Regions from separate parts of the Homo sapiens genome. Here region 1 is linked to region 2. Evidence: fine-mapped expression QTL. A gene starts in region 2. The other region holds a variant in brackets. All regions are shown on one strand. Distances are from middle to middle. Region 1 overlaps LIN54 (lin-54 DREAM MuvB core complex component). Region 2 holds the start of LIN54 (lin-54 DREAM MuvB core complex component).

Evidence for each region. PIP is the estimated chance that this variant, and not a neighbour inherited with it, causes the effect. A credible set is the group of variants that fine-mapping cannot tell apart.
Region 1: its variant is the best candidate, but not a certain one, in a credible set for the expression of LIN54 in blood mononuclear cells (TOPMed, PIP 0.79).

Annotation. Positions count from the first base shown.
Region 1 is chr4:82,923,639-82,929,019 of GRCh38, forward strand. It overlaps LIN54 (lin-54 DREAM MuvB core complex component), which reads right to left. Exons shown (of 13, transcript NM_194282.4): 13 at 965-4,665. The coding sequence ends at 4,464. Among named protein-coding and RNA genes, the nearest start is that of THAP9-AS1, 25 kb to the left of the region's middle. The variant A/G (reference allele first, on the strand shown) is at 2,736.
Region 2 is chr4:83,008,655-83,014,035 of GRCh38, forward strand. It overlaps LIN54 (lin-54 DREAM MuvB core complex component), which reads right to left and starts at 2,169. Exons shown (of 13, transcript NM_194282.4): 1 at 1,830-2,169. RefSeq lists enhancers at 2,009-2,108, 3,990-4,875, 4,483-4,612 and silencers at 2,179-2,258, 3,983-4,312.

The DNA of each region.
Region 1 (5,381 bases), 85 kb before region 2:
CTATGTAGGCATTCATATCATCAAGTAGTCTTATTTATTTATTTCCAATCTGTGGGCCTTTTTCCCACCTGCCTTATTGCACAGTGAGCTACATTGTTGAATAAGAATGCCTTGCTCCCAGTCTTAAAGGAAAGCATTCTTCACTATGTGTATGTTAGCTGTAGGCTTTTTTTGTAAATGGTCTTTATCAGGTTTAGTCTTAGTTCTCTGAAGACTTTATTTTTTTGTTTATTGAATCATATGTGGCTGAATTTTACCAGATATGTTTTTCTGCACCTTTTGGGTAAAAAAATTTCTGAGATAAAATTCACATAACCATAATATTTACCCTCTTAAATAAGCATATAGTGGCCGGGCGCGGTGGCTCACGCCTGTAATCCCAGCACTTTGGGAGGCCAAGGCGGGTGGATCACCTGAGGTCAGGAGTTGGAGACTAGCTTGACCAATGTGGTGAAACCCCATCACTACTAAAAATACAAAATTAGCCAGGCTTGGTGGCGCATGCCTGTAACCCCAGCTACTCGGGAGACTGAGACATGAGAATTGCTTGAACCAGGAGGCAGAGGGTGCAGTGAGCTGAGATCGCACCACTGCACTCTAGCCTGGGCAACAGAGTGAGACTCCATCTCAAGAAACAAACAAGAAAATATAATTTAGCAGTTTTACCTATATCCACAGTCATTTTCTGCAACTTTTGAGATGATCATTTAGCTTTTCTTATTTGTATGCTGATACAGTGAACTATGTTTTTTTTAAAACATTGGATCAACTTTTATTCCCAGGATAAACCCTACTTGGTCATGATGTATTCTTTTTATAATACTATGACCAGATTTCATATGCCAGTATGATAGATGACAGTTTTATAAAGTCCCAGTGACCTTATAATAAACATAACCCTAAACATACTTGTTTTCTTATTGCTTTTGAATAGAAACTGAGTGTCTTAAATGCTGTCACAAAATTTGCCATTTAGAAGGAAATTTTTAATTAAAAAAAACCTTATAGCTTTCAACTCATAAAATCACATGGATTAAAAAAAAAAGCTCACCTTTGGTATACAGATAATGACAAAATGTGCATTCAAGAAGCCCTAACAAGAAAAGCCTGAAGTAATTTACATGATGAAAATAACTCCAATAGAAAGGGATTTTTAGTTGATTGCCTTCCCTTCTGCTTTGGGTAGCCACACCAGAATTCCTATATAAAATGCTTAAGAGATACAACATGATCAAAGTTATGGCCGGAGGTCCTGCTGTGAAGCTTCATTTACATAACAAGTATTCATTTTCTTAACTATTTGTGTTACAGAACAATAAAAATAGATAACTTTTCTAAAATTATTTTTATTCACATTTTACATAAGATTGAAAAAATGTCAGTTGTTCACTACCAGAAAATGGGGAACTAATCACTCTGTTTGCTTTTGTACCTGTAACATTAAGGTTCTGTTTCCCAGACCCCAGAGATAAGACCTACAGGTTGTGTTTAGTGCTTCAGAAAAAAAGGAAACTAAGAAAGATAGCTATCATAAGAACATTTCACATTAAAAGACAGAGTAGATTGATTTTCTAGGTATTTTTGTTTTTGAGACAAGGTCTCACTCTGATTGCCAGGCTGGAGTGCAGTGGTGTAATTTTGACTCACTACAGCCTCAACCTCTGCAGGCTCAGGCCTTCAAAGTAGCGAGGACTGCAGGTGTGCGCCACCACACGCAGTGAATTTTTTTATATTTTTAGTAGAGACAGGGTTTCACCATGTAGCCTGGGCTGGTCTAGAACTCCTGGACTCAAGTGATTCACCCGCCTTGACCTCCCAAAGTGCTGGAATTACAGGCGTGAGCCACCATGCCCGGCTGAGTTTCTGCTCTTAAAAGAAACAGTGGGGAAAAAAAGAGAAGACATATTCTCATTTCAAAGCAATTTATGTTAGTAATAACTGAGCAAAATGATAGAATTTTTTAGTTGTGTGTTTTCAGAAGTAATGTCAAATTTACTTCAGATAATTTAAAAGGTTTTTTGCATATTAAATGGTTAATAAAGTGGTGTTATTATACTAAAGAAAAAATGCAAAACCTTTTTTACAGAATAGTATAAATGTTTATTTTCTGTATGATTTACTTTGCTGTCCTGTTTTTACAATATAGAAAAGTGTATTCTTTGAATAGCTCTAGTAAATATAAATTTAATCTTTCTACTTTGGGATGTAAATAGAGCTAAAAAATTATATACCCAACCCTCCCCAAATAGTCTTTTAAAATCATTGAATTAATGTGGCTATTCATCTTGTTCAGCAATTTGATGCAAATGCCTGAATACAAAAAGTTATTTAGTAAGTACTACACAGGAAGGAAAAGGCTTAATATTTTAGATAGATAGATTTTTGAAAATCAGAAAAACTAGTAGCATTTGATTGCACCTTGAAATTTTTTTACAAGCAAAACATTCGTAAGCAATGCCATCATACATAATCTACAATTGTAATCAAAATTTCACGAACATTTTCTGCACACTGTATATAAATACACATCACAAAGGTGCAATTAGAATTAACACAGAGTATGTACAAAATGAACAAAGTTTAAGTTTAGACCAAAAACTTATTGCAATCTTTTGAAAAATAACTTGATTATTATTTTACCCTCTTACACTAATTTACATTTATACAAATTTTAATTAAACATACTAGATTGAGGTGCTAAGAATGTTTGAACTATCTACATTTAAAGTTACTGC[A/G]CTATGATTTTATAAATCCAAATTTAAAAGGAAGATACTTTAGTGAATAACGGAATCCTCTTTTGGATTACTTAATTTCTATTGCCTATATCTTGCATGTTCATATGAACATATATACACACTTAATACATACAACTATAGAGTCCTTGTAGGAAATGAAATAATCATATACTAATTACTGATGATTAAGGTACCTAACAAAATGCCTGAATTCCAACATGGTTTTTTCTTGTCATAAAATCAAGAGTCCTGTCACAACAGGCTCTTAAATTCATAGAGTTTTTGAATACTGAAAATGATTTAGGTTATTTTAGTAATTATAGGAAAACAGACCTTCCAAATCACTGGCTGAAAATAATGCCATATTAAACTTCCCTTATAAAAAGAAATCCCACCACAATTTTGAAAATTTTGTTAGGAGGCCCATTTCTGTAAATCAAGTAAGAGTTGCGATTTGGTTTGAAACCTCTTAGTTCAAAAGTCTATAAAAAGGGCCTGGCACGGCGGCTTATGCCTGTAATCCCAGCACTTTGGGAGGCCGAGGCGGGCGAATCACGAGGTCAGGAGATCGAGACCATCCTGGCTAACACGGTGAAACCCCGTCTCTACTAAAAATACAAAAAATGAGCCGGGCATGGTGGCATGCACCTGTAGTCCCAGCTACACGGGAGGCTGAGGCAGGAGAATCGCTTGAACCTGGGAGGCAGAGGCGTTGCAGTGAGCTGAGATCTCACCATTGCACTCCAGCCTGGGCTACACAGCGAGACTCCGTCTCAAAAAAAAAAAAAAAAAAGTCTGTAAAAATAATTGATTGTATAGATGAAAACTTCTCTAAATTCATCTTTTGCAGCTTCCCTATTCTTTGTTTCTCCACCCATGCCAAATTTTATACTTGATTACTATGTGAGGTTCTATATTATCACTACATAATGTTTACTTCCATTTATATCCACCTATCATTTTAATAGTACCCAGTAATCACTTTGACAATTTATTACTTCAAATACATACCACCTCTTTGAAAGAAAATGGAGACAGCCCAGAGCATCTGTTAGCCTTTCCTTATTATAGAAACACATTGCCCATCCTCTGAGATTTACTGTCCTTTAATATTTTATATGTTTTTTTAAATAACTTTAAAAAATTTTTAGTGTGCCTGGGGATTGTTTCCCCTTCTGACATTCCCAAAGTGACAACAGGATATTATTCCAGAATCGGCCCTAAAAGGCTGCTTTTTCTTTAAAAGATAGTCCTTTTCTAAATACAAAATGTCATTTGAATGTGTTTCATAAGAATTTGTTTATGTAACATTCTGTCTGCAGATATTCTAGATCAAGTCCCAAAGAATGGGTGCTAACCACTGCTGCTTTGGCTTTTCTATTAACAAAGTCATACAACACCATACATTATAAATTATATGAATTTATAAACATTTTTTGTCAAAGGTATCAGAAAGAGAACATCTAATTCTTAAGAAACCCAAGCAAATTAAAAAATCTATATAATAAAGAAAAATTCAATTTAGAAGGGGCATAAGCAGATTTAACTAAGATTTAAAATGTACTAATTTCCTCATTTAAAATTTCTTCTCCTTCAGTATTATAATTTCAGGTCTTTTAAAACAAGGACTGAATTAAAATACAGTAATTGTTTTTCTTCCAGAAAATCAAGTGTCCCTGCACCTTAAATTTTCTGTACAGTTCCATTTATCAGTCTTTTGTGCAAGAGTTAGCAATTCATGGCACAAGGGTCACTTTTTGCCTTTCCTGCAGAGTTGATGACACTCATCAAACATCGTCCGAATTCCTCAAGTATCATCCGTTCCGCTGCTGCCTTTGATTTTCCCTTCTTGTCTGCCTGCTCTGCCTGGGCAAGGAGGCAATTACATGTGGCTTCAGCTACTTCCTTAGTTACAAATGTAAATGGCAATCTGAAATGATTTTTGAAAGAGAAAGATGATGGTGGTGTTAAATAACAACAAAAGTGGATAACATTCTTTCATCTGGAAATCTCTACTGACACTTTCACAATTCACCAGCAGGATGAGCATCACAATTTACACAGTGAGCACAAGCACATCCTAAAAAGGGCTTTAAAAAGTTAAATTTGGTTTTATTCACATATTGTAAGAATATTGTTCAGGAAATTTAACATAAAACACGTTACTTATTACCTAGGCAAGGTTATGTGGTTAACTAAAAGATAATAGTCTACACGAAGACTAGAATTTCTTTAACTAAAATCCTCCTAAATCATGAATGTACGCTCTGTAAGTTCAATTCTTATTTACTGCTGTTGCTCCAGTGCCTAGAATAGTGCATGACATAGAGACGCTACATGAATAGTTGCTGAATGAATGAATAATACTGGGAATTGACAGCACTATCTCTTCGGCAAAATGAAAAATAAAGCACTTTACCATAGTCACTGATACTGTTTGTAGAAAACATTCCAAAATTCTGCATCGTTCTAGCACAACAAAACAAAATGGCGAAACCAAATGTTCTGTACACAGAGTTGCATTCATAAAGACCTGAGCTATTGAGTATTAAATTGGAGCAACCCATCGTGAGGCTTGCTATATTTGCAGCCAACTCAAGTCTTAAAGCCTGTGACAGATTAAGTCAAGCAACATAATCTAAACCA
Region 2 (5,381 bases):
GAGTGAAACTCTGCCTTGGAAAAAAATAAAGAAAAAGTAGTGAAAATCTATAATACTCTTCCCCCAAAAAATGAACACTGGACTATCTCTGGTGGTATAATTCTTGCTTCATTTCTAACACACTTTTAATTATTAATACACAATTGTTCTAACCAGGACAATCTGAAAACTGGTCTTTAAAGACAATCACAAAGAATCACAAAGAGACAATAGCCCTCTGTGATTAAAAGAAAGCCAATGAAAAAGCTTTTTAATCTCCCTATTTTAATTATTTTTAAAATTCTTAGTCTTACTACTGAGTCAGCAGCTATAAGGCATGGGTCAAATAACTGCAACATAAAAACTGTAATTTTAAAAAGACAAAACCAAATACCTACTGAATAATACAGCATCAGACAAATTATTTTTAAAAAATAATCATTATCGTCATCATTAAACCTTCTGAGTACCTCTAAGGTATTTCTCCTAAAAATTTTTTTGGGTCTCTTATTCTTCTAGTAAGTGAAAGCCAGACCTACAAACTATACACACCTATTCACACAAAATATTTCCCCTCTAAGTAAACTACAAAATTTGTGATATATGACACACTATGGCACAGTGTGTTACATATACTCTTTGTAGACAATTTGAATAAGGAAATAATATCACATATACTCTCTGTAGACAATTTGAATACGGAAATTTAGGGCTAATCATAAACATTACCCATGGGCATTCCTCAATACTAATCCTTCTGTTCATTATACACTCAATGTCATTGACCCAAAAAAGCTGGGGGAAAAGCATAGGGTCCAAATTAATGTATAAAAATTTTTTTGCCCAGCCTAAAAATTTGATTCACATGTAACTTTTCTGTAACACTAGTGTTGTGTGCAAGGAGACAGACTCCTTACGGATCTTTCAGCATAACCTAAAACTTAACATGGGTCTTCAGATAACCTAATAAAACAGTGGCTGTTATAGTCAATCAATCCAGCTCTCTAAACAAAGGGCTAGGCTAATCACTCCAGCATTTAGTGATTTAGAAATAACAGAGGTCTCAATTTATTTTTCCCAACTTAATGTACTCACAACAAATGCTTGCATCACCCCATCGCAACTCTCCTTCTTAACAATGAAGGTAAAACTCAGGACCAAAAGAGAGCTCCTAGAGCTGTATTTCATTTGCATTATAAAATCTACAGCAAAATTTTTCATAACTTTACTCTCTGAATTCATGAACTAGGTTGGCGGGGGCAGGAGGGTGAGTATAGAGAAGAACTTCCCTGAAAAGCATGAGTATAAAATATAACTGAGAGTATCTCAATTGTTATATGCCAAATGGCAGGGGCAAAGAGGTTAGTTACTCTAAGGATAACAGAGCATTAAAAATTTTTTTTCTAATTCTTACAAAACTGGTCCCTATTCTATAAAATGTGAACATCCACAACCCAACAAGTTACAGACTAGGATCTAAGACACAGATCTTAAATGCAGATAAAATGCCAATGCTCTGCCTCCCTAAAGAAACGTACAACCCCAAGAACTGCTGAACACCATCAAAGCAACACCCGCCAGAGTGGCTGTTTTAAACATTATATCAGGAAATCATGATAAGTGCTAGCGGTTCCTCTAGGCCTCAGCAGCAGCCTTAGGTATAAGAGCAAACTGGAGCCCTCTTAACACTCAAAGAATAATGTTGATGTCATGACGAGGCTACTGATTCTTCGCACTCCGGACAAGTCATTCCTTGATCCACCGCGCAATTCTTTCCCCACCCACCCCCATCCCCCCAAATAAAGAGATCTCCGGACAGAGAAGCCCTCGGGTACCCCATCCTCCTCTACCTCCAGCGGCTGCCGCTTTCTCCTCCCTCGGGCTCCGAGGTAGGGGCTCCAGAAGGTCCTGGGCAATCCCGAGCCCCGGCGGGGCTTGTTTTGCCCGTGCACGATAGCTCTGGCCAGCAGCTTCCTTTCCCAGTTTGTCCAAACTGGAGCGCTCCAGGGTACCCGGGGACCGAGAAGGGAGCCGGGGTGGCGACGTCGCCGTCGCCGCCGCCTCTGGTATGTCAGGGGCCGGGATTGTATTTCGAAAGATCCGCCATTTTCACCTCGTCATCACCATCACAGCTCAGCAGCTTCCCCGACAGCCGGAGCCCGGGCCGCCGCCGCCGCCGCCACCACCAGTAACCTCCCCCTTCCTCCTCCTCCCCTCCCCGCCCGCCCCACCCGGGAGGCGCACACCCACATATCCGGGGAAGCCTCCCGCCGCCCCGCCAACCTTCAAACGCACAAGGGCCGTGCAAGTGCACACGGGCTACGCCGAGACCTTTCACCCCCGGGCGGAGCACGGGCCCCCGCAGGGACGCCAAAGGAAGTCGCGCCACCTGCGGGGTCCCAAGTCCGGCATATTTTTGTTTGCAAGACCAAAAGCCATGCGGAGGGTGGCATAAGGACAATAAAGAACCCAAACTCTTTCATTTTCAGAGCAGCAACTTGAGAGAGATGGTGGAATGCGTTTCATTCACTGTGGCTATCTCAGGCACTAAAAACACTGTGAAAGACCTTTAATGTCATTCACCAACTTTGACATTTTACCCCACCCGCAGAACTACTTTGACAGGATGAGCTATTTCCATATGCATGTTCGACCTTTGACACCTTTGTCAATTACAGGCAGCAATCCTCATGCAGATGAAGTGGTCAAAATATCTAATTTAAAAAAATAAAGTTCTGAGCTATCTTCCTCTCCAACTTAATTTATCTGGTCATTTCTGTCCATGAACACTGCGACTTCCAATCTGTCATCGGTTTAAGACGTCAAAGCGCAACTAGATTTGAAATGATTGAACTAATTGTAGAAACATTCATGAATGATCGATTTCTAAAATATTGAAAATATAACTCTTAGCTAAAATTATTTGCCAAATGTTTTTTTAGGATCTAAGTCATCAAATTAAAAAAAAACCATCTGCTGCTGATATATTTGTTCTGTACAGTAAAAATAAACAGCTTGCTTCAGAACAAGATCCTAGAGCTACCTACTAGGTAGGTAAGAGTTACCAGCTCTTGTCATCAGTCAGTTGAATAAGTAACCAAAAGAGAACAGAGGTAATTCTTAATCATTTAAAAAATAACAAAACATAAGCTGCAAGGCTTCTGAAGAGATCAGCATTAAAAAAAAAAAAAAAGGAAACTGGCTGCCTTTGTCAATTTTAGAAAGAGTTAACCATCCAAAAGCTGAATTCTGTATCATTCAACCACAACATAAGCTCTGGGCAAACTGAATTTCAAGGCTGCGAACAGGGCCACTCTACTGTCTAAGTTAGTGTAGGAAGAGTAAGGTTGAAGTTGAAGTTGAAAAAGTCATTTCATTTCCCTACCTTGTTTCAATGGCAACTCCATATAAAAGTCGGTAGATTCAGCCTTCAACAAGGGCTGTCCACCACCCACCCCAATTGCTGTTTTTATATGCAGACTACCAGATGCTGAGAGTATAAAGTGTTCTCAATTACTTCATCTTTAAACTTCATTTCCCCACTGACGGCCCCGTCCATCCGCACTCTGCTTGGTTGTTTACCGTTGCTGGCCAAGCTAAGTCCCGGCCCGCTCCCTTCCCCCGTGCACCTCGGGAACATTATGACATTTGGCTGGTGGGCTTCGCGAGGAAAACGGACACGCACGAACAAGAGCCTGTACAAAGGGGCATAGGAAGAACGCGGCGGCGGGCAGTAGGGAGAGGAGGGACTGGCACAAAATGACACAGCAGCAAAACCGGTTCCCAGAAACCTGGGGCCGCCACGGGTGGCTTGTTGGGTCGCGCAGTGTGCGTGTCAACAGCCGCAGGAGCCCTTACTCCAGACCGCCGGGCAGGCGGCTGGCCGAGCGCTGGCCCTGCCGGGTGACAGCCACCCTCTCGGGAGCCGACGGGAAGAGACCGAGCCCCAAGGATCCTTCGCCCCCCGCAACCCAGCTTCAGGGAAGGGGCGCGGCGGACCCCGCTGGCGGGTTCCCGCTCCCCGCCAAGGCCCACCGGCCCGGGCTCCCGGAGGGAGCGGTCCAGCGCTCTCCGCCCGCGCAGGCACTCGCAGCGGGGGCCGGTTCCCCCTTCCCGCCAGCCCGCCCAGGAGCCCCCATCCCGGGGGCTGACACTCACCAAAGCCGGCGGCGCCGCCGCCTCCTGGTCGCGCGGCGCTCCCTGGGCTCCCAGCAGCAGCGGCGGCGGCGGCGCCTCCGAGACACAGACCAGGGTTTGTTCAAAATCACGCGCCCAGCCCCATTCCACCGCCGCATCCCATAATACGCTGGGCCCTCCCCGCCCGCGCGCCCCTCTCTGCCCGCCCCTGCGCTCCGCACCCCGCCCCACGGCCGGCTTCCTTCGCTCCGCCTCTTCCGCGGCGCCTCGTCCCTCCCCTTGGCAACCCAAGCCCGCGTCATTCCGCCGGGCTCCGCCAGGGCGCTCCAGTTCCACGTGACGCCGAGTGGCGCCCGGTCAAAGCGATCGCACGGAATGTTCCATCGGACTGAAGCTGATGGGGGGAGGACCCGCATCGCGCTGCGGTTGGGAGAGACCGTCCCTTCGTCTAGCTTTCCTTGTTAGGAAGTCCGGGTTGTAGGTGCGACTTCCAGGATATCCCGCTGTTTGATGTGCTTGAGTGAGGAGGTGATCAGTAGTCACAAATGCCAAGTCACTGTGTTTTTAGGCACTAGTTTTGCAGTGTCGCTAAAAAGCCACAGGGAGATTCATTGAGAGTTAAACTTATTTTGAAAGACGTTTTGCATTTCTTGCAACACGCAGCTAAGACTAACACAGTCAAAATTATTTGTATTTAATCACCTTTTATTTTTTCCCGCGATTTATATGATATCCAAATACGGAGTCGGATGAACAGACGCTGACAGATCATTCTGAGGGGAAAAAAAAATTATTCTGAGAGATTATTATCAACTGCTGTGAGTGCGACAAGCACTACATATACGAAAATAGAAAATACAAGAGTGTAAATGTAAGATGGTGCGATACAGTGTATAATTTGCTAATGGAGTACGGAGGACATACAGGTCAGCATGAGAGACTACCTCGGGAACATAATGGAGGAGGTGAAACAGTGTAGGGGAGGCAGCAGTCACTTTGGAATCAAGCAGTACTGGTATTTAATGGCACCTCCGTTTATTAGTGTATATTGTATAACGTTTATTTTCCTATCCAGCAAATAAAAATAACAAAACTTCCCAGGATTCTGATGGTTAAATAAAATGAAGGGTGTTAAGCAGGTACACAGTCTCTGCCTGAAATGTTAGTTCCCTTGTGCCATAATCAACACCCAGTACCAGCCCAAACACTAATAGTCAGGATTTAACAAGGCAAATGTCATGAAATTAGCAAAGCCTTGAAAATGG